Linked DNA regions of Homo sapiens: region 2 is linked to region 1. The links come from fine-mapping of genetic effects on plasma protein levels. Region 1 holds a variant in brackets. A gene starts in the other region. All regions are shown on their reverse strands.

What was found. PIP is the chance, under the fine-mapping model, that this variant and not a neighbour inherited with it causes the effect. The UK Biobank Pharma Proteomics Project read protein levels with antibody pairs (Olink). The fine-mapping took linkage between variants from a reference panel, not from the people measured, so its PIPs are less certain.
Region 2: FNDC1 starts here. The variant in region 1 is fine-mapped to the plasma level of the FNDC1 protein (UK Biobank, PIP 0.95).

What each region holds. Positions count from the first base shown.
Region 1 is chr15:101,521,783-101,533,679 of GRCh38, reverse strand. It overlaps LOC124903567 (a long non-coding RNA gene), which reads left to right and starts at 5,306. Exons shown (of 2, transcript XR_007064784.1): 1 at 5,306-5,363; 2 at 5,820-6,915. RefSeq lists an enhancer at 2,703-3,361. The variant C/T (reference allele first, on the strand shown) is at 5,225.
Region 2 is chr6:159,160,643-159,172,539 of GRCh38, reverse strand. It overlaps FNDC1 (fibronectin type III domain containing 1), which reads right to left and starts at 3,140. Exons shown (of 23, transcript NM_032532.3): 1 at 2,835-3,140. The coding sequence starts at 2,943. It overlaps FNDC1-AS1 (FNDC1 antisense RNA 1), which reads left to right and starts at 2,533. Exons shown (of 4, transcript NR_121668.1): 1 at 2,533-2,728; 2 at 3,779-4,007; 3 at 5,186-5,291; 4 at 6,352-6,641. RefSeq lists an enhancer at 1,786-2,285 and a silencer at 3,092-3,261.

The sequences.
Region 1 (11,897 bases):
CTCCGTGGAGGTACCGGAAGAGCCACGGGCTTCAGTGAGAGCATGGGCTGCACCCCTGCCCGGCTCGACCCTGGAGACACCTTGGGGAGAGGGAGCATGAAACCACAGAGCCCCGGGGAAGCCTGAGGCCACTGGGACCCGTGAGGGGTGTGGGTGGGAGCAGCCCCAGGGCCAGGGCAGGGAGCAGTGGTGGGGAGAGCTTGGAAGTCCTGCTCCTGTGTCCACCCCACTTTATTCCATTCCTCTGGGATAGCAGCAATCCCAGCCCAGCCGCCTTGTGTTGGTGAGGGTCCAGTCCCAGGCGTGCATGGGTAGAGGCTGGGTACATTCCTATCAGCCTTCCTCGGGCACCCCTCCTGGCTGCCCCCTCTGCTCCCCAGGGCTGGTGGGCTCTGCAACCTGAAAAACCCACCTCTTCTCAGGGCCACCTACAACTGTGAGTTAGGGAAAGTGCTGGCAACAGAAGCAACCTCATGGTCTCAGGGCTCATCTCCCATCTCATAACCCCCTTCATGGGGGCCACAGACACCCCGGGCCTGAGCTTCAGCACCTTCCCCATTACCTGTCCCCAGGAGGACATGCACCTAAGATCAAGGCAAATGCAGGCCCCGGGGCACTTCTCTCTCCCAGGGAGAAAACACACTGAGCCACAGTCACCCATCGGAATCTATACTAAGTGTCATAGGTATTCTCAGCTAAGGGGCAGTATTAATAATGGAAAGCAGACAGAGGAACCGTAACAGAGCCAAATGGAAGCAAGAAGGGTGGGAAACATAAAATGCGGAAACACAGATAATGATAAACGAGACCTGCACACTGAGGCTTGCGGCAGGAGCGTCCCAGGCTGGGGGCCTGTGTCACGGGTAAGAGGGGAAGTCAGGTGCAGAGGACCCCCGGGACGCCAGGTCCCCATTAGAAGCAACGGCCCAGATGTGCACAGAGGCAGGAAACTACTATGAGGTTCTGGTGCTGAGTGAACATAGAAACCCATCGAGGCCAAGAGTGAAATAGTCCTTATGTAGGTCAAGAGTACCAAACAGTACTGAGTGACAAGGAATAAGTGGATAAGCAAAACGTGGTCTACGCAGGCAAGGGAAGATGACTCAGCCTCGAAAAGGAAGGAGATTCTGACAGGTGCTACAACAGGGACAGACCTTGAGGACCTTATGCTGAGTGAAATAAGCCAGGCACAAAAGGACAAATACTCTGTGATTCCACGTATGTGAGGTGCCTGGAGTTGTCAAAATTATTGGGACAGAAAGTAGAATGGTGGGGGCCGGGCACGGTGGCTCACCCCTGTAATCCCAGCACTTCGGGAGGCCAAGGCCGGGGGATCACCTGAGGTCAGGAGTTCGAGACCAGCCTGACCAACATGGTGAAACCCCGTCTCTACTAAAAAGAATACAAAAATTAGCTGGGCCTGGGGGTGGGTGCCTGTAATCCCAGCTACTTGGGAGGCTGAGGCAGGAGAATTGCTTGAAGCTAGGAGGTGGAGGTTGCAGTGAGCTGAGACCGCACCATTGCACTCCAGCCTGGGCAACAAGAGCGAAACTCCGTCTCAAAAAAAAGGAAAGAAAGAAAGAGAAAGGAAGGAAGGAAGGGAAGGGAAGGGAAGGGAAGGGAAGGAAGGAAGGAAGGAAGGGAGGAAGGGAGGGAGGGCGAAAGAAAAAGAAAGAAAGAAAGAGAAAGAGAAAGAAAGAAGGAAAGAAAAAGAAAGGAAGGAAGATGGCTTTCAGGGGTTGAGCAGAGGTGGGATGAGGAGTTAGTGTTTAATGGCAACAAAGTTTCAGACTGAGAAGATGAAAAAGCTCTGAAGGTGGATAGCAGTGACGGTTGTACAACAGTGTGAATATACTTAATGCCACTGAACTGTACATATGAAAATATTTAAAATGGTAAATTTTATGTTACATATATTTTACCACAATAAAAATAAAATTAAAAAGGTTCAATCTAGTAAAGAAATAATTTTAGAAACCAAAATAGAATAGTGTGTCTTATACTGGGACACAAGCAAATAAAAGGACACACATTAAAATACTAGAACGCTGAGGGGGGAACGGGCACAAAAGAAAATTAAACTGGCGAAGGGGCCACGGGTCGCAGCATGTGGCAGGCAGTGCTCTCTGCCCACAGCCAGAATGCGGGATCAGGAGTGAGCAGCAAGCAGTGGGGTGACAGATGATCTCAGGGTAGCCCCCCAAGGCTGCAGGAGAGTCACCACCCCACAGCCTAGCCGGTGCCCCAGCACGCCCAACAGCCCTTCCAAACCCCCGGCTCCCAAGAATGCCCTGACAGCCGTCTGGGCTTCCCCTTCCCCTGTGTGGCCTCGTGGAGTAGAGTCCAAATCCCAGCTGCCCTGGACACGCGTCCCAGGCTGGCTGGCCCGTGGCCCATCGACACTGGGCTCATGCACACGGTAGGTGCTCTGAGAGGTTCTGTTGAGTGAGAATAAGTGACGGGAATTGAGAATGGGGAGACCTCTCCTAGCCGGGAGAAATGACACAATGCCGCTTTAGGGAAGCCCAGTGGATGATCCTTCAGATCCCCGGGGGGATAAACCTCACTTCCGATCTCAGGAGCATAGAAGTGGCCCTTTCTCTATTTTCAGTAACTGAACTCAGTTTTAATTTTAAGCGTCAATACCATCAGGTAACAAGGATTTAATCTCCACCTGGGCAGGGGCTCAGGCTTGCAGGCCAACCGGACCCTCTCTAAGCCGCCTTCTTCTCTGACCAATTCTCTGTGGCACGAGGCTCAGCCGGGGACACAGTGGCCCTGCAGTAACTGCGAGTATGCCTAGTCACCTGGCCAAGCATGAGGACCACTGCCGCAGGGAGCAGAGCAGGCCCTGCTGTGGCCTTCAGGACAGGAAAGGTGGAAAAGCCGTTTGTATACTGTGGCTAAACCCTGAGTGCGCGATACCCCTTCCAGGCTTGTAATCCACATTCCAGCCCACGGTGATTGACAGCTGGCACACAGCAGCACCCAGGGCGCCACCCGCCCTCCATGAGTGTGCTGCTGGTTTAATTGATGTGTGCAATTTTGGGGACCACTGAGTCCATCAGAATGCCAAGGAGGAAGGGGGTGGGAGGGACGGCAGGGCAGGGTGTGCCTTGCATGGGCAAAGAGGTCAGAAGTGAGCATTACATCAAGCAGGCCCGCGGCAGCTTTGAAGAGCACCGTCAGGGCAGGAGACAGTCCTCAAGCAGCAGCACAGGGCAGACCCTGACTGTGCGCACCAGGCTTCCCGCCTGCAAAGCACTTCTGGTTAATCATCAGAAAGGGAATATTGTAAAAGGGTATCAAGTGGCTCACAGACAACTCCCTGCTGAGTCACTGTGGGGAAGGGTCAGGAACCTGGAGGTGCCAAGTGGCCACAGCTATAGCCCCAAGACATGTGGCTAGGACACTGCTGGTGCTGAGCATGCACTAGCCACTGCTCTTCGCACCCAGGACACTGGGGCACTGCTCTGCCACCTGGGAATGGGGGGACGGACCCTGAAGTCTCCGTGCCTCCTGGGCATGTGGCTGCACAGCCCTGCTACCCCCCACCGGTGTCAGGGAGTGCACGTTCTTGGCCTTTTAGGCTTCTGTAGAGGGAAGCAGGGTTTTGCCTCCCACTAAGACGGTTCACTTCTCAAATGTTAAAAGGCTGTCCTGATGCTGCATAACCACAAAATAAAAAGCATCCAGAAGGCCAGGCGTGGTGGCTCACGCCCGTAATCCCAGCACTTCGGGAGGCCGAGGCGGGTGGATCACTTGAGGTCAGGAGTTCGTGACCAGCCTCGCCAACATAGTGAAACCCCATCTCCACTAAACATACAAAAATTAACCAGGCGTGGTGGCTAATGCCTGTAATCCCAGCTACTTGGGAGGCTGAAGCGGGAGACTCACTTGAACCTGGGAGGCAGGGGTTGCAGTGAGCCGAGATCACGCCACTGCACTCCAGCCTGGGTGGCAGAGCAAGACTCCATCTCAAAAAAAGCATCCACAAGAATGACCAAGTGACTGCTCAATGGCCATGGATGTTTCTGGACCCTGAGGGCCCCTGTTTTGCTGAGATGGAAATCATTGCTGACTCCTTTAATGTTGTTTAATTTTTTAAAAACCTCTTCAAGCATTCCTCTAGATTTCTGGTATTCAGAACTATGCTGTGAACACAGAAAGATTAAGGACTGTTCTTCTAATGCCTTAGACAGCCTGTGCCAATTGGTCTCAGAGTAGAGAAAAATATATTTATGCTGTGAAACCTAAATACCCAAACTAAATTCATTTTAGCAAAGATTAATACGCAGAGCCCCAATTCTTGTACAGATTCCTCAGAGCAGCACGTGCTGTTCGGCGCTTCTTCCTTTATAATAAATGGTCAGGTGTGCAAACAACTGTTTGAAGAGCCATTAGGAGTCAGTCAGCTGTGGTGTGGGCAGAGTGGGCAGTGGTATGCCAGGAAGCGCCCAGGGTTGCAGGTCTAGGGCATTGTGGAGACAGCAGCAGCATTCCTTGGTCCTGAGCTGGGATTCCGCATCCAGTTGGGCCCAAGCGTGATCTGTGTGTAGTTCCATGAGGCCTGGGTGGAGGGTGTTGGGAGTGATAGAATGTTTGGAAGGAAGTACAGGGGAGTGAGGCCTGATTCACCCAGGCTATGGGGCTGTGTGAAAATGGCCAGGCTCTTGAATGTTTGGCACATAGAGGAGAAAACTGTCATGAACAAGACTCATAGCCCCTGAAAATAGGCAGCTTGTCTTCTCTGCAAGACGGCCTGGCTGGTGTCCCTGCAAGCCCAAGTGTGAGCTGGGGGATTCGCAGGCAGGCTGGTGACACTTTCCATCAGTGGGAACCCCTCTACTTTCGAGCACCTGCCCCCGACTTCATGCAGGGAGTGCACGAGGAGTCTGCCTGGGACTGTGGATGGGCCTGAAGGACAGCCCAGCCTGGGACTGTGGGACGCAGCTGTCCAGCGAGGTGCTGGCTGGCCGGCCAGCAGCCACCACCCAGGCCCAGCTGCAGGGCTGGGTTTCCTGCAAACCGTGATTCTGGAGCAGGGTAGGTGACCCCGAACTGCCTGTTTACAGTTTTCATGCACCCTGGGGACACCGTGAGCCTCCCCAGCCCTGTGGCCTTGAGCTGCTGTATTCTAGAAATACCGGCAGCTGCCTGTCCCCTGAAGCCTCCCCACAGCTTTGAGCAATGATGAATATTGGTTAATCTCTCCTGTAAACAG[C/T]TGTTTTCCCGGCAACTGCCCAGCTCGTGTTAAATATTAACAAAGAGCCGCCTCCACAGCCGCTCACAGGGTGTCTGCTTTAAATATTTAAGAAATTGCTGTTCCTGTCCCTGAGTGACTCTTTGGCTCAAACTGTTCTGTAAGTGTTCTTGCCTCCCTGGTGACTGCGTTGTGTGAAATGTCCGACATCCCTGCTTGCTTGCTCTTTCTTCACCCATTGCTCTCTTTGTCTCTGTCCTTCCCTGTCTCTATCACTGTCTCTCTGTCTCTCTCTCTCTTAGTGAATAGTACTAAAAAATGTAAACGCTGAGGGTTGCACTCAGTCCTGGGTGCTCAGCCAAGCTGCCTGGAGATGCCCCAGGCAGGCTCCTGCTCCATCGAGATGCTGCGGAAAGCAAGTGGCCTTTAAGTGTTGCTGCCTCACACGCTCATGGTTAGGTGTGAATAGCTGGGGCACCCCACCCCTCGCCCCCATCTGGGGGTGTGTCTGCACACGTGTACTCAGGTGCCCAGAGGGTTGTGGAAATGCCGTGACCGTGTGTAAATCCTTTACATCTAAGTCCTTCTCACTGTTGGCACTTCCCATTCCCTTCAGGGTTTGTGGAAGACACGCCTGTTTTCTTCCCTGGGCTAACTGTGAAGCTCAGAAGAGGAAGAAGGGCCCGGATGGCAGATGAACCGCACAGGGCTGTGTGGCCTCAGCCCCGCAGCTGGGGAGCTCAGTGGCCTCCTGGAGGAGAAGCTGACTTTGGAGGACCTGGAACACCATGGCTGCTGGGAGTTGGGGCTGTGCGGGAGGCTTCTGTCTCTGTGTGGCGTTTGGTCATAACCACTGGACTTTGGAACATCCTGCTTAAAACCACAACTTTGGCTGGGCACGGTGGCTCATGCCTGTAATCCCAGCACTTTGTGAGGCTGAGGTGGGCGGATCGCTTGTGCTCAGGAGTTCAAGGCCAGCCTGGGCAACATGGCAAAACCCTGTCTCTACTAAAAATACAAAAATTAGCTGGGCATGGTGGCTCACACCTTGGGTGGCTGAGGCAGGAGAATCACTTGAATCCAGGAGTTGGAGTCTGCAGTGAGCCAAGATCACTCAACTGCACTCCAGCCTGGGCGACAGACTGAGACCCTGTCTCAAAGAAACAAAACAAAACAAAACAACAGCAAAAACCCCCACAACTTTACCTAGACTCATCTGTGAAAACTTCAGTGAATCCGGCCTCAAACTGTCGCTATGGGGGAGCCACTGGCAGCTGAGTTTGTTTAGATTCCTCCTTCCTGGGTGAGACCTGGGGTTGGAAACACCATTGAAATTCCCTCTAGTAATGGGCTCTGTCGTCCAGAGGAAGGGGCAAGACTCCCCCACCCCCACTTCTCACCCCTTGCCCGGGGTCTCTTCTCCCTTCCTGACCAGGAGCCTAAGGAAGGCCTCAGGTAGAAATAGAGAAGCATCTTCCTCCCTCTGGGGCCAGAGATTTCCAGCCGAGTTTTGTGAGACTCCAAGACTGCTGTGCGTATCCTCAGAGCTGCTGAGATCACCTCAAAACAAAGCCCGTTTAAAGTCACTTTCATTTATTTCAAGAGCTACTGTGAACCTCTCAGGATAAAATGAAAATGAACTTCAATTCACTTTAATTTTTAAAAGATATGTTCGTTTAATATCCTTTTTAAAATAAAAACAGGGAAAAAGACGTAGTGGTTTCAAGTTTGCAATTCCCATCCGGCCCAGGTGAGGCCACAGGGCCACCTCCCGTGAGAAGAGCGTGGCCTCAGGAGGGCAGGTGGCACAGTGCATGAGCCTGCGGCGAGTCTCGGGCTCTGCCTAGGGTCGGGGGAGGGGCTCTCTGCATCTCACTCTCCCCAGTTCTAAACGGAGAAAGTAGTAGTACCTGCCTTAGGGTGTTGGTAGAGAACTGACTTAGATCTTGCCGGTAAAACTCAGGGCCTGCAGGCGTGACCTTACAGCAGGTGGGCTACAGGCACAGTCCTGGCTACAAGCCGGGCAGCTGTCTTGTCCCAGGAGACCAGGAAAGCCTCCAAGACACCATGGGCCTATTGGTAGGGGACAAGTGGGCTTCCCTGCCAGGTGGCCTGGTGACAGGGTCATTAGCAGTTGAAAATTTTGAGAAAATGATTCTGTGAGCTGGAGGGCAATTGGACGGGTGAGGATGGAGGAGAAAGCCAAAATCCGCAACTCGGATCACTGTCAGGGCGAGGCTGGGAGTGGGGGAGCGGGGGATCCCTCCCCAGAGGAGCACAGGCTGCAAGCTGGTGGCCTGGAGGCCTGGGGGAGAGGAGCGCAGCCAGGGCAGGACTGTTGCTGGAAGTCTGTGGAGGAAGCTGCCTTGTCAGTCAGCCTCCCGACCCCAGGCACACAGCGATTACAACCTCATGCCAAAAAACAAAAACAAAAACAAAAACAATGCTCTTTTGAAAAGAAATTGAACAAACTACCAGACTGGGCCCCATCCTTAAACCTCATTTAATTTTTTTTTTTTTTTTTTTTTTTGAGACGGAGTCTCACTCTGTCACCCAGGCTGCAGTGCAGTGGCGTGATCTTGGCTCACTGCAACCTCGGCCTCCTGGATTCAAGCGATTCTCCTGCCTTAGCCTCCCGAGTAGCTGGGATTACAAGCATGTGCCAGCATGACTGGCTAATTTTAGTATTTTTAGTAGAAACGGGGTTTCGCCATGTTGGCCAGGCTGGTCTCAGACCCCTGACCTCAGGTGATCCTTCTGCCTCGGCCTCATAAAGTGCTAGGATTACAGGCATGAGCCACCACATCCAGCCTCATTTAACTTTAATTACCTTTAAGGGCCTTGTCTCCAAATACAGTTGCATTGGGGGGCAGGGCTTTGACATAAAAATCTGGAAGGACGCAAACATTCATTCCATAGCACTCAGAGAGCAGCAGCTACAGGAGGTCACTGACCCCCTATAGAACTGGAGAATGAAATGGAAAGTGAAGCTACGAGAGCTCATGAGCACGATTGCCCCTCATCCAGAAACCAGGAGTTACCCTCTGGCCGCTGCTACGGAGCCTAAACATCAACAGCTCCGCCACTATTGTGACACCCACCACCAATCTGCAGATTGCAGTCACTCTCAGCTGCCAGCTGCTCCCGGAGCTGGAGAAGGGGACATGCTTTCTCCCATGATCCAGCCTTCCAGCCTCCAGTGCCTCTCATTGGCCGGAAACTTGCATCAGGAGAAGCTGGGAATATAGTTCATAGGCTTCCAGCCCTGGCAGTTACAAATGGGAGTATGGAGTGACAAGTTAGAAGCTATGTCCACAGATAAATAAACAGCACAGATTGCAAGACAGAGAAGCGCAATCAAGAGGCAGTTATTCTTCGTCCATGAGAAAAATGAAAGGTAAATCAAACATGGGGGGGATATCAAAAAGTTGTCTGTGAAAGCCACAGTCTAATCATGAAAAAACTAAAAATATGTTATGGTTTTCTGTTTTGAGACGGAGTCTCGCTCTGTCACCCAGGCTGGAGTGCAGTGGCATGATCTTGGCTCACTGCAACCTCCACCTCCCAGGTTCAAGCAATTCTCCTGCCTCAGCCTCCTGAGTAGCTGGAACTACAGGCACCTGCCACCACGCCCGGCTAATTTTTTGTGTTTTTAGTAGAGACGGGGTTTCACCGTGTTAGCCAGGATGGTCTCCATCTTCTGACCTCATGATCCGCCCGCCTCGGCCTCCCAAAGTGCTGGGATTACAGGCGTGAGCCACCGCGCCCGGCCACGTTATGGTTTTGAGCAAGAAGAAAGTTTATGAGAGACAGAATGCATTCAGCCTTGACGCTGAAGTCATTCTCTCCTGTGGCCCCGGGAAAGCCACCAACCACAGAGAAGGAAGCCACTTGGCTGCTATGAATGGTACTTACAAAGTTGTAAAAACGCGAATGCCGTTGACTTGTTTTCAACACAGATAAAACTTAACAAAGAACAGAAAACTTAATTATGCTCATCAAACAGAATATGATGCCATCCTTGGTGCTGCAAAAGAAAAACCCACGGGATGGAGGAAGAGAAGGGGAAGAGGGGAGGGGAGACGGAGGACAGGACAGGGCTTCAGAGGCCTCCACGGTGTGCTGAAGATTCAGCAGTCTCAGCTGGATGGAAAAGCAGTAAATGCCCAAGTCTATATTGACAGGTGCGAATCTAACGAATGTGAAAACTAACAATCGTGACTGAGAGGAGGTGGGGGAGGGTAAATGAGGGAAATTCTCATTTTTTAATAGTGCAGAATCAGTAGATACTGTTGAAGGATGACAAATGAAGAGGTGACGGAATAAGCATATTGACTAAAGTTATGATGGTGGATAGATTGATTTTTTTTTCTTTTGAGACGGAATCTCGTTCTCTGTTGCGCACAGTGGAGCTCTTAGAGGTGTTGACAGAGTCTAATCGCATCCCTTTGACCTGCGAAGCTCTGAGGAGGGAGGGTTCCAACAGCCACCTGTGACCAGAGTCCCTGTCTCAGCACCCTGCAGGGCAGGTGACCTTATGGCCAATGAGACACAGGGAACATTGGCTGTTCCCTCCCTGATGAGCAGGGAGGAGCAGTTTGAGGCCATGATGCACAGAACGAGGTGGCTGTGTTGTGACTGCCAGGGAGGGAGGAGCCACCAGCAGCTGATGGGACAGAGGAGAAGGATAAAGGAGAGGCTCTGGTGACAGTACTGGGCACTGTGCATGGCGGGGGACTGCCTGCCTCCCAAGTTCTTGTTGTGTTGACAGAGATGACAAAATGTCATCATTGTTTCAGCCGCAGCTCACTGGGTGCTTGGCAGCCCACTCCCCCAGCGGGCCCAGGAGCCTGGCGGTACCGTGGCTCCTCCTAGTGCAGGCGCTCGGCTCAGTCTTCCTCATGGAAAGGCTCCAGCGGGCCCCGGTCTCACAGGGTGGCCCAGCTGGCTGTCAGGCTTGCTCCTGGGGACACCTCAGGCAAGACAGGAGAGGTGCTCTGTGCCCTCAAGCTTTCATTCATGCACTGGTTCTGTCGGCGAATGTGTTGACACGTGCCACACCAAAGCTGTGTGGTGTGGACCTCATTACCTGTCATCTTTCTAACTTGACTGCAAACTTCATGTGGGGAGGACAGTGGCCTGTGTGACCCAGATCCTCAGTGGCCAGCCCTGGGAACGGCTCATCATCTAGGGGAGGAAACAGACTCTCATCAGATCCAAGCCCAGCTCCTAGGGGTGGTGATGCTGCTATCTAAGCAGGACCCTCTCACACACCCCCACCCCACCCAGCTGCATGGCTGAGCCCTGTGGCTGGTGGCACTTCACACACATCATTCTATGGCTGCCACTGGTATTTAGTGTCCCCTCGTCCTGCCTGGCCCCTCCAACAGGGTCTCCTTTCTTCCAGGGCCCTGACATCTCGTGGAGACACTGCCTCCCACATCTCTCCATGTGAGCAGTTTCCCCAGCCCTGCCTTGCTCCTCTCTCTGCTCTGCTGCAGTGCCTTCTCCTAATACCACGGGAATGCTGAAAGAGGTCTCTGGGGAAGCAGCGCCTTGTCACCTGCAGGCCCAGCAGCCGCAACTCAAACACACTGGCACAAAGTTGCACTTCATTTACTCCACTTGATTTCTGGGATTCCAATTCCAGTCCGGGAAGACGTGTAAACAAGGATGTTCAGATGGTGGTTGCCCTGGAGGGTGGGCGTGGGGGCAGGTGTTGATGGCAGTGGGGCACAGGGACGCCTCCTGGGAGCTGCTGATGTCTTCTGTCTTGGTCTGGGTGCGATTTACAGGGGTGGGCTCGGTTTGTCAAAATTCGTCGAACTGTACTCATATGATGCTGTATGTAATATGTCAATAGATGGAAAGGTTTCTGTGTGTGTGTGTGGTTTTTAAATTTTTGATTTAAAAATAAGGAACACTCAGAGTAGCATTTCACGTTAGTGAACAAAGGTAGCACAAGGCAGTGCTTCCCTGCAAGTTGAGTCCTTGCCCCTTTTCACAGGGGCCCTGCCTCTGTCTGTGCCCTGGCTGGGGTTCCCACTCCGTGGCGGTAGCTACAGGGAACCTGTGGGCACCCGTCTGTCTTTGCTGTCGTCCTTGCTTTTCTTCCCCTGGCCGCCTGCTGGGATTGTCGCTGGATCTGAAATTGGCCTGTTTACTGCTCTGGAGTTTCCGTGTTGATCATTCTGTGGGGTGGTTGCTGCAGGCCTGGGGCCGTTGGGCGTGGGTTTCACCAAATGCAGTAATGTTTCTATCCATCCATGCCTTTACAACATTTATATGAAGGGAATTAAAACCAAAGTATCTGCCACGATAAACGGCCATACCCTTGGTTCCTACCAGACCTTCCTGTAGAACTGGAGCCTGGCTCAGTTGCAAGAAGGATAAACTTAATATTAATGATAATAATACTTTGCACTTGGTCTAGTAAAAACATTTTGAATATAGCAGAGGCAAGGATGTGAATGTTTGCTTGGCGCTATTTATCAGGAAGTGCTTCTGCTTGTTTATTATGTTAGGGCTTTGTATACAGAAACTATTTTTTCCTCTCTTACCACCGAGGGCCATATTTCTCGTTGGTTGCTACATCCAAAGTTTAACAGGAAGTTGCTGGTCATATTTAAATGGTATGCTTTTAAAACGTATCTGTAAATAGCTGAAGACGGAATGGCTGAAGGTGTGGAGTTGA
Region 2 (11,897 bases), not on the chromosome of region 1:
ATTTATATCACCATTGATCTCACTAGAAAAAAATTTAAATATTGGGAAACTTTCAAGCTTACAGTGGTGGAAACAACTTGGCAAAATTCTGATTTTCACTTGAAAGCTGAAATGTTATCATTGGCAAGCAATAATAGCAGTTATTTTACTAGAAGTAGCAAGTTCCCTTTGTTCATTTTTGAGAAAACATCGGCCAAATACCCAAGTCAGAATAGCTCTAGTTTGTCTGTTGTCATTCTTTGTGGTAAATACCACATTCCATTTTAAAAAACCAGCTAGCTTAATGCATAACACAAACAATCACACCAGTGCTTCCCCCTGGGGTTGCCACTGAACTTGGTCATCAGCAGTAGTAACTTATGTGTCCTTCCCATTTATTTACACTATTAAAAAGACATACACTCAAAGATACAAAGATTTGGTAAAATTAATAATTTTACTGTGGCATCAAGAACATTCTTAATGAAACTGGCAAATTTTTTTTAACTGCAAAGTCCCCCCAAAATTCAAAGACTACTAGTGCATGGTGATGTCCCTGCCTTGATTCTCAGTAAGACACCCGCAGTTTACCCATCAAGCTTTTGCACCCTCAGTGCAAATGTCAACTGTGAAAAAGGAAAATAGCATCTTAGTAATCTTAGTATTACTTTGAAAATAGTTTTGACATGGAAAATTCCCTAAAAGCTTCTTTAAAGAAGAAAATAAAAATCATCCCTAACCATCCTAAGATACCCACTGCAAATATGTGCATGTGTGAGTACATCCACATGTGTTTAGAAAAATGTATCATACCAGACTGGCAAGGCCATCATAATTTTAATGTTTGCATAGTATCCTATTGTAGGGATGAATATGAGTGGAGGAGGGGACACTGCTTGCTTATTTTGTTTTATGTTTAATTGACCCTACACTGAAGGGCTTATCCAGATCTTCAGTGTGTCCTGCTTTAAGCAAAGTCCCTCGGAGCCACTATTATGTGGCCGTGGGTAATTTCCTTACAGAGATTCTGGCCCCAAAAGGGTGGTGAAGGGGAGAGCTTGACACAAGCAGCTCGCTTGGTCCATGCATTAGTTCAACCAGAGAGAGGGAGCAGTCTATCCATGACGTTGCTGTCAAAGGGAGCCCATGAAAGAAGTTATGTACCCCATAATTTCATCCACAGCATGGGGAGCTATCTACAGGTTGCTATGTCTGTTTCTATCCTTCTATTACTTAATTTAAATTTAGTAGATTTCATTCTGAAATGTGCCTGTCCTCCTTTGTCCACCTCTAGTCTGGTCATCATTTGACTGTAGATCCCACGTCAACACAGTAGAGAGAAGGGCTGGGAAGCTGTCCAGCCCCAGCATTCCTCAGCACAGTGATTCACAGAGCAGAAGGCGAAAAAGCAAGAGTGCAGATCGCGGTGGGATTCCAGGAGCTCTCACAAACAACCCCGCTCGGACCCACTCACATGCAACCCACGGGCAGGTGGCAGAGGAATCGGAAAAGCAGAAGGCTGGAATCGCCACAAAGCCAGGGCAGCACTGGTTCCAGTTTCAGATCATTTTCAGAAACAAAAACTCTTCCAGCACTCTGAAAATTTTCACTTAGAAAAACAAAAGCCAGGAGTTGTAGGTGGGGAAGTTGGAAGACTTTATTTAGTTTTATTCCTCTCAAGTACTGTGCAAAGTATTCAGTGAATACTTTCCTAGAGTTCACTAATGGGAAGAAAAAGACCCTACGGCAGGCACTGCCTTTTATGAGAAAGTGGCATTGGCATCAGAATACCTCGCATAAACCTGAGCCAAGCATTGGGATGATGTATCTACCAAAAAGTCACAAAGTAATGTGATCCCCAACTTTTCTTCCTTTACCCCTGAAGTAAGAGAACAATATATACACTAAATAGCATCATAAAACTGGTACCCTCGTTGGAATAGTATCTGACGATCATTGTCTGCTTCTTGGATTTCTACAAACCAATAACCTAAAAGCCAGTTTCAAGTGTAAAAATGCCTGCAAAGGAGGTGGTAACAAGGGCCGCCAAAGGCTTAGGAATGAAAACCTCGCCACAAACTTGTCTCTCTCTGCAGGAAGCTTGCAAGAAATCTGACAGGAGCGCGCTAGCATTTTCTGAAAAGCATTGCTCTCAAAGGAAGCATCCATCCTGGCTGCAGCCTCAGCCATTGGGGAAGGGCGAGTTTCTCTGGAATCAGCTTTCTCATTTCCCTCTCCCTCCTCTCAAGACAAACATTTTCTCCCAGCTTGAACGTTCCCCCCGGGCGCGCGGGCCTCCTGCCGCCTGGAGCCGAGCTGGCACTGGAGCGCTTCTCCTCTGGAGCGCAGAGGCACCCGACGCCCTGCGGCAGCTCGCAGCCTTTCCCCCACGACCTTCTAGAACAGCCCTGCTCTGCCTCCCTCCGGTCTCCCGAGTGCGCCCGTCATCCTGCCTCGCGAGAGGTGAACGCGGAGAAAGTAGGATGACCACCTACGCTCCCGAGAAATTCTGGGCAAAGAAAGGCATTACCCCAGTCCGCACGCTGAAAGTCGCCTTTCTTTTCCTTTTTTCCCCGCTGTGCCTGAATCTCCCGGGACACTTAGACGGCTGGAGCCTCCCGACTCCAAGGCGGGCGACGGCAAAGTTAAACGCCAGCGCGCTGCGGTCCCCGGGCACCGAGGCGTCCCCGCTCCCGCCACCCACACAGGGCGCCAAGTGCCCCGACCCGCGAGTGACGAGGACGCACAGGCTAGTGACACGACCCGTAGCCAGCACTGAGCGGGACGACGGGGCCCGAGCGCAGGAGGGTGCGCGGGGAGCTGAGGAGCGCCGGGGGCCCGGGCGCGGCGCGTACCTGAGGCCGCCGCCGAGGAGGCGACGGGGAGCAGCGCGGCCAAGAGCAGCAGCGCCGCCCAGGACAGCCGGCGCGGCGCGCGCAGGGTCGCCCCGGCCTCGGGGGCCATCGAGAGCCCGGGGTGGGCCGGGGCTGGGTGCTTGCGGCTGGCAGGGGGGCGCTGGCCGGAGTCTGGGGAGTGCCGAGGCGCCGCCGTCGGGTCCCCGCCGCCGTCCGTCTGTTCTGCGCGCTCTGCGCGGTGCCCGCCGCGCCCCTGCCCCGCGGCGATCGCTCCCGGCCGCACACCGGCAGCCGCGCTCCGCCACTGAGGCCGCCGACCTCCCGCCGAGCCTTTTAGCTGCGCTCGGGCGCCCCCTGCCGGTGTGCGGGGCCGGGGCCAGGGCCGGCGGGGGCGACCCGGGCGACAGGGGCGACGGGGGCGGCGGGGCCCGGGCTGGAGGCGGGCGGGGCGCGGGACGAAGGGGCCGGAGCGCCCCGGACTGACTTAGCGGTTCTGAACTTGGGGCGGTCGCTGTGCCGGGCCAAGTGGCTGAGGAAGTTCCTCCCCTCGTCTAACCCTCTCATTTTCTGGCTGGGGAAGTCGCCCATCGCGCCGAGGAGTGCCCTTTGTCCCCTTACAGAAACACCTCTGCGCCCCAAGTGGGGACTCGGGCCGGGACCCCTCACCCGGTCCGCAGCGCTGTAGTTCCTGTGGCTAGCCCAGTCCTTCCACGTCCCTACCCGCACCCGGCGCGCCCACGTCAGGGGTTTTCAGCGTCCTTAGACCCTGCTCCGTCTGGCTGTCATTTCTAGGGCGCGCACGATGCGGGTCGAAAAGGAACCCAGTTTTCAGTGTGCCTTGTTGCCCAGGCCAAGGACTCAGCGGACCTCGCCTCTCCCTTTTCTGTAATTGTAACACTGCCCCAGGTCTCCCTATTCCTCCTTCTCCCTATTCCTCCTTCCAGCCTGGAAGCCTCGCGGCCCTCCAGATGGACTCGGAGCGCCCCTGGAGGCTACAGTGACCTAAGCTCTAGGAAGGCCGGGTCCTGGACGCCGCGTGCTGCTGTCCGCCGCCGACCGGTGTCCTCGCAGAGATAACCTGGCTGAACTCACCGCCCAGCGCTATGTCAGTTCTCCCTCATGACAACCCAAAACTTGACCGGATTTGTGTTCTGCAGAGAGGAAAAAAAAAAGGTAAATGAATTGCAAAGAGATGAAAACCAGAAATACAGTATCTCTTTGAATTTGAGCACCCAGGAAAGGTGTAAACCTACCGCCTTCCTTTCCAGGAAACTCTCCTGCTTCCCAGCAAAGGTTTTTGTTTGTTTGTTTTTCTTTTTCTTTTTGTTTTGAGACAGGGTCTCCCTCTGCCTCTGCCGCCCAGGCTGGAGTGCAGTGGTGCAGTCTTGGCTCACTGCAACCACCATATCCCAGGCTCAAGCCATTCTCCTGCCTCAGCCTCCTAAGTGGCTGGGACTACAGGTTTCAGCCACCATGCCCAGCTCATTTTTGTATGTTTTGTAGAGACAGGGTTTCCCCACGTTGCCCAGGCTGGTCTCCAACTCCTGAGCTCAAGCAATCCGCCCACCTTGGCCTCCCAAAGTGCTGGGATTACAGGCGTGAGCCACCACGCCCAGCCCAAACACACTTTCCTGCATTACTCCCTTATGTTATCATGTTTCCCCACATGCCATTTAATGGAGCTGTGTGGTTTCTGTCTCACCAGCAGCCACCCGGCTCTGCCTATTTTGGGGGAATGGTAGCTCCCTCCCCAACTCCAACCAAGTGACAGGCCCCCTCCTTACTCCCACTCCTTCCCAAAGCCCCACTTCCCCACTGGCTCAGGGCTCTGCAGTGGCCTAGACAGGGTCACTCAGAGTTGGGACTCTTCTAACACGGGCTGGTGGAAAGGTCTCTTTCTCCCATCATTCGTGGATTTGGAAGGATGGTAGCCATGGCAGGCTGAAACACAGCCTTCCTCCCCAAAAAGACATTCCTGTCCTAGTCCCTGACCCTGTGAATGTCACCTTACATGGTTTATTAAAAAGCAATTAAGCATGCTGAGACAGAGAGATTATCGTGGATTATCTGGGTGGGCCCTAATGCAGTCATGTATGTAACTTATAAAACAGAGGAGAGGGAGATTGACGCACACAAGAGAAATCCAGGTGAGGACGGAGGCAGCCATGGGAACGATGCACCCACAGCCCAGGGATGCTGGCAGCCCTCACCAGAGGCTGGAAGAGGCTCCTCCAGAGCCTGTGCTGGACTTCAGGCCAGTGGAACTGATTTCAGACTTCTGGCCTCCAAGACTGAGAGAGCAGATTTCTGTTGTTTAAGCCACCCACCCCGTTTGTAATTACTTCTTACAGCGGCCACCGAACACCAGTGCAGTAGCCAGGATGGGCCTGTGGCTCTGGCTGCAGCCTCCAGGGACACCAGCTGGAGAGAAGGAAGCCACGCATGGAGAGCGGCCAGGTGGGTAGAAAAGAGCCGGGCAGATGCAAGAGTCCCGGGCTCCACCTCACCCCTGCGCTTTCTGAACGCTGGTTCTGGGGACAGCACATTCCCTTTTGCTAACTTGGAATGAGATTTCTATTTTCTATAACCAATGAGTCTTGACTAGTGCACTCCCCCCTGTTCTTAAGAGGACAAGAACCAAGACTTATCTTTATTGCTCATCTGTCACCCAAAAGAGGCCATCACAGAACCAAACACAGTAATATCCAGGAAATGCTGAGGTTAATTGCCATTCATTCATTCATTCAGCAAATACTTATTGTGATCTACTCTGTCCCCAGCACTGCTGTAGACCCCGGGGATTAGCAGTGACTGAAAGCAGATGAATAGCAGGAGTTAAGTTAAAAGCAGAGAAGGGGAGGCAGCACTGAGGACTTTACAGGCTGCAGGAAGGGTTTAGGCTTTCAATCTGAGAGGTGAAGGGCAACACTGGAGAATTCTGATCAGAGGAGACACGGGTAAGCAGGCTCTTACAATCCCAGTGAGGCAAGACGGTGCTTGGACATGATGGACAGCAGTGGGGCACGAGAACCAGTGAGGTTCTGGATGCATCTTAAAGGTATGGTTTGGGAGATTTTCTGACTCATTGGATGTGGAGAAAAAGAGGATTTGCAATATACCGAGTCACACTATTCTCATGCTGCTGGTTAACTCTCCATTGTGACTTCTGTAATTTCAGGATGTCACTCTTTAGTTTCATTGTAATGAACTAATCATATGCCATAATCTCTATATGCACACAGTGAAAGCTCAACAGACATCAGTTTCCTTCCCTGCATCCTCAGGAGATGCATGTGCACTTACCTTCCTCCCCAGAATACTTATTAGAGCAACTTTCTTAGGGGTACATTTCAGAGTGAAGCACAATGCAAAATTACTTCCAATTTTAGAGTTTCAGAACCCTCAACCATGGGCTGTTTGATATTAAATGAAATTACTGACACTTATGAGTTCTGATTCTGATTTCATTACAAATATGAGAGTGTGTGTTTTAATCAAAAGGTATTATTACCTTTAGGCTCAAAATATCTTAAAGAAAATGGAACTCGGAGTCAGTCATCTGTTCTCAACGTGGTCATCTCAAAAATATGAGCACACGGAAGTTTTCTTCCTTCTTGTCAGTTTTGAGTCCAATATCAATACTGTTGTCCTGTGAAAGATTTTAAGATTTAAATGTTTTTTCATGTAATTTCCTGATGTCTTGATTGTTGCTTCTATTTTGTTCATCAAAACCAAACAGAGTGGAGGTTGCTCTGGGGCTGGATGGATGGCCAGTCATTAAAATCAATGCCTTATTAGTCTGCCTTAGTTCTGTGGTCTTTTCTGGCTTTACAGATCAGCTTGTGTTCATATACACTATTTCCTGTTCTAGTTATTTTTAAAATAACTATACATCCAAGGAGTTCAGCACTCCTCATACACATTGTCGTGGCATTCCTATGTGATAGGGTAAATTAAATTGCTATTCTCGTGTTTCATATGGATAAATGGGAAGCAAGTTCAAATGACCTTCCAGTACAGACTCAAGTAGAGCGTTGAAAGTGCGTGTCTCATATTATTCATCTGACATTTAATCTTGTTCAGTCTTCAATTTGGCTCATGTGGCTCTTTAATTCCTTTTTAAGCACCACATTTGAATATATCTGCATATTGTGATCGCCGCAGGACACTACACAATACCCATTACACAATAGTGATATTTTTAAAAGACTACATAGAAGGAGAACAAAAGAGAGTGTGCTCCTACAGCACTTGCTGTGATTGTGGGGAGCTCAATAAATCGGACACAGCAGATCTGGAGGAACACAACAGTCCCCAGGATTCTATGAACAGAGGGAAAAGGGAAAAGAAAATAGAAGCAGGCAAGTCGACACTGCCATCTCAGTTTCGCCTTGACCTGGGAGAAGGGTGATAGAAATAGCTTCTAGCTGGCAATAAAATAAAATAATAAAATAATGCTTTACTTCTTTTCTTGAACAGTACTCATTTCGTTCCGATTCTCACAACAACTTTAGGGGCACTATTCTGATTTTACAGGAGAAAATCAAGGCTCCAAGAAGGCGTGTGGCATGTGCTTGGCCCTTTAACTGGTGCGCCTGGGAGTCCAGTCTGAGCCTCTGACCCCAAGTACACATCTCTCTCCACCACACGTGACTCTCAGAAGGTCCTTCCCTCTCTCCCATTTTCATTAAAACTATGAGGATCAGGGGAGACAGGACAAATAAAAGTCTGTTTTGCACACGCCATGTCCCCGTGTCCACTGCAGATTTATCGGAGACACTTCCTTATCATCCAGATAGTGACCAATCCCTCTTAGCAAACAACTACATGAGACCTCAATGTTATATCACTCATGTTCTTAGAGTTTCAAAGATGCAGACAAGAAATGGTGCTTCTTAAAAAACACCCTGCCATGAATCTATCATTGCCCAAAACACACTTCCTCTGCACAGAAGTTCTAACATGTTTCCACTGCAAGGCAGTGCCAAGGCAATTCTCTTCTATTGTACAAATCTACTGGGAATTAGTGAAACATAAAGGATTAAGGTGTCAGACACCAGCCTCACATATGCATGGTTGGCATGATTAAATTAAAAAACTCACAGATTTGTGTTCTAAGTTTCTGTCCAATGGCCCAGGTCAATCCAGCCTACATTCCACACATGGAAGAAGATATTCCAATTCTGCCAACTACTGCTTGTCAATGGGGACAGGAGAAATCATTCATTCTTCTATTCCTTTATATATCCTTTGTTGAACACCTATTTTTGTTCCATGCCATGTAGTAGAATCTGGGGGTGCAAATGTGACTAAGACACAGACAGCCCATGCTTCGAAGCGCTCACAGTCAAATGCAACAGATAAACAAACAACTGAAAACAATCACAATCCAATGTGACAAGTGCTGTAATCTTCAGGCCATGGAGCTTAAAGGAATTTTCATGAATGTTGCGCAACACTTCCTTTACTTATTTTCCCACCAAGGAGATTTTTAACCCTATGTCTACTTCTCATAGGCAGACATAGGGGTATGTTCACTCTAATCACACTAATCCTGTGGAATTAAAAAGAGCACAGTTTGGGGAGGAGACATTAGTAAATCTGAGTGGAACAAGAGCTCAAAATGTAGTCTTCAAGTTGCAGTTGGCAGTTTGAAAAGCTGGCCCGGCATTATGCTAAGAAAACATATGTCTGGCCGCCTTCCCAGGCTGCATTTTTCTGATTCCCAGCGTCTTGTCAAGAGCAGACCACAACTGCTAGTCCATGAGCAGTGCAGAGCTGCCCACCCAAGCCCATGCTGGTGTGTACAGGGCATGCCACTCAAGCCCCCCATGCCTCAGATAGCATGAGGACAGATAGGCACTCACTCTGGAAATGGGGACATTCATCATTTGTTCAGTAGTCCCATAATGAACCCCACCTGTGTGCCTGGCCCATGATCAGAGCACAGACTGTGGTCACCTGTGAAATGGCATCTGCACCAGCTGACAGCTGACGGGGGCTTTGCCATCTGTGCAGTGTGACTGGCCTGGAGGAAGTGATGAAGTAGACAGTTCGCCGGTGGTGATCCCAGCCCCTTTCCCTCCTGGCTGATGTCTCCCTCTAAGGCACCTACCCAAGCACATCATGCCCTTTCATACTGCACCCTTCTCACCACCCATCAAGCCTTCCTTCAAGGATCCAATCACCTCCTTCTAACTAGCATGTAAATAAGTGACTGATAAGGCTTTATGATCTTTTCTCCATAAGGATGTAGTGCTCTGCAACTCACATAGTCACAACGTGTGCGCTCATTCATCCACATGAACCATCAGGGAGGGTGACACTTTATTATGCCCATTTTACAGAGGCAGAAACTTAGGTTCTTTGTCCAGCCAATGTTCATGCAGTTAAGGAATAACACAGCTAGGAGGCAAACCCTGATACTCCACCTGCAAACACAGTGCTCTTTGCACAATAGGCCATCAAAACAAGAATTCTCCAGTGTTGAATTCGTAAGTAATAAAATGTTGACAGGGAGGCATTTAGGATGAGGGCCTCTTTTATTTACAGTTCGATTTCCCTGACTTAAGAAAAAGCACCATCTTCTGCATCCACATTATAACTATTGCTCTCTGGCCACGCTTGAGAAGCAAAGTCGATTTTCCTTACATTCTTTAGAATCTGCACAAAAACATCTAGGAGAAAATATTCTGTGATTCTGTAGCATCCAAATCAATGTGCTTCCCTAACACAGCTCACAGATAGTACTGAATTGTTATTCATATGATGCTCCTGAAATGAAAAAGCAGGCTTGAGCTGTTTTATAGGTAGCTTCCACTCTGGGAGGGGACCTTACTCTCTGTCTAGATTCAATCATGATTTTGTGAGCCCTCAGCGCATTCAGCCTACAGGCCTCTTCCTTGTTCTGGAAGCATCTTTCCCTGACTTCTGACACTGGAGCTTGTCCTGACCTGTCTTCTGCTTCTCCTACCTTTGTTCCTCCATCTCCTCTGCAGTGCTGAGGCCTTTTCAAGTCTCCTTCCCCCTTCTCCATAGAAGATCCCATCCACGGTCACTCCAGTCACGCTGCCCTTTCAGTCTTGCGGTCACCTTGCTGCCTCTTCACAGGGTTTTTGCACCAACTGATCCCATCCCCCGTCCCTTTCTGCCTTTCCACCTATCCTTCAAAGCTCAGCTTTTATTAGAGTTTCCCTGGAACCCTTTGACCAGGTAAAATCTCCCCTTTCTACTCACTCACAGCACCATAGAACTTGCTTTTGTGGTCCTTCCCGTGGCTGAATTTTCATGCTTATCTCCATAGCTACTCATCCATCACCCAGCTTGACTGTAAGCTCCATGAGGACAGGGATCACATCTGTTTTTGCTCGCCTTGTATCGCTATAGCCTGGCATGCGACCTGAATCATAGCAGGAACTCAGTAAACATTTGTGAGTTCATGTGTACAAGCATGCATACATGAAGGATCTTCTTTATTCAGTAGTACAAGCTTGGTAGAATTGGTGATATGGTTTGGCTTTGTGCCCCACTCAAATCTCATATTGAAATGTAATCCCTTGCGTTGGAGGTGGGGCCTGGTAGGAGGTGATTGGATCATTGGGGTGGTGTCTAATGATTCAGCACCATCCCCTAGGGCTGTCTCATGGTAGAGTTCTCGTGAGATCTGGTTGTTTAAAAGTGTGTAGCACCCCACTTCCCACCCTTCACTCTCTTCCTCCTGCTCCTGCTATGTAAATGTGCTTGTTTCTCCTTTGCCTTCCACTATGACTGTACGTTTCCTAAGGCCTCCCCAGCCATGCTTTCTGTACAGCCTGTGGAACTGTGAGTCAATTAAACCTCTTTTCTTTATAAAGTACCCAGTTTCAGGTATTTCTTTATAACAGTGCAAAAAAGGACTAATACAATTGCCCTCTCCAAGAAGTCAGTGTAAGCTTGGACTTATTCCCTGCTGCAGCCCACTCCTACCCAGACCCTGGCTGTACCCAGCATGCATAAGCAGCAACTCCGCAGACAGATGTCCTCAGGCTGAGAGACACTCTGGCAAACACAGTTTAAAAATGTTAAATTTCTCATTCTGGGCTACTGGTAGTGAGACTAGCAATTTGTAAAAGGATATTTATGTATTGTCTCTAAGGTGAAGGAGGATAAATGCAAGTAATTTTGTAGCAAATTCAAATTTTTTTATTAATTAGTGATGCTTGCCCTGTTTGTTGTTTCTTTCATTCATTCAACAGTTAGACACTGAATGCCTTGCAATTTGCCAACATCATAACTTCTCTAATCAGATTGTGCAGCTGGTTGGGCAAATGCAGTATTAACCATCGCTCCCAGGAAAAACTCTCTAAACTCATATAATGTCATCAATCACCTTGGCCAACAGGTCATATTAGAAAGGCACCAACTGAGGGAGACTTCTCAGGCCATCTCCTTCTCTTCTAGTTCATGCTTGAACAATTACCCAAGTATGTGACAGGTTTTTTTGTTTTCAGAAAATTTGTGTTCTGTTTACTCCAAAACGTAGTGACTAAAAACAATAATTGTACATTATCTTTCTCAGTTTCCCAGTGTTAGGAAGCTGGAAGTGGCCTGGTTGGGTAGGTCTGGCTTGGAGGTCCCTCATGAGTTGCATGGGCTTGGGCTGTCATCATCTGCAGGCTTGACTGGGGCTGGAGGATCCACTTCCTGGCTAGTTCACTCTGGGCTGGCAAGTTAGTGCTGGCTGCAAGATGGGGCCTCAGTGGCTCTCCACAAAGCTGTTTGAATATCTTCAGAGCATGGCAGTTGGCTTTCCCTGGAGCAAGTAATGCAGGAGTCCAAGGCAGAAGTGCAATGCCTTTTCAGACCACCCTCAGAAGTCACCCACTGTCACTACCACCATATTCTATTGGTGACACAGACCAGCCTTGATTCAACATGGGAGTGGACTATACAAACGGCATGAAGACCTTTGGTGGATCATAGAGGACCAACATGGAGACTTACTGCCACAGGCTGACACCGCAACAAGACCCCTGCTTTCTTGCATATTTTCCAGCTCACTGAACCAAATGATTTGTTTTCCTT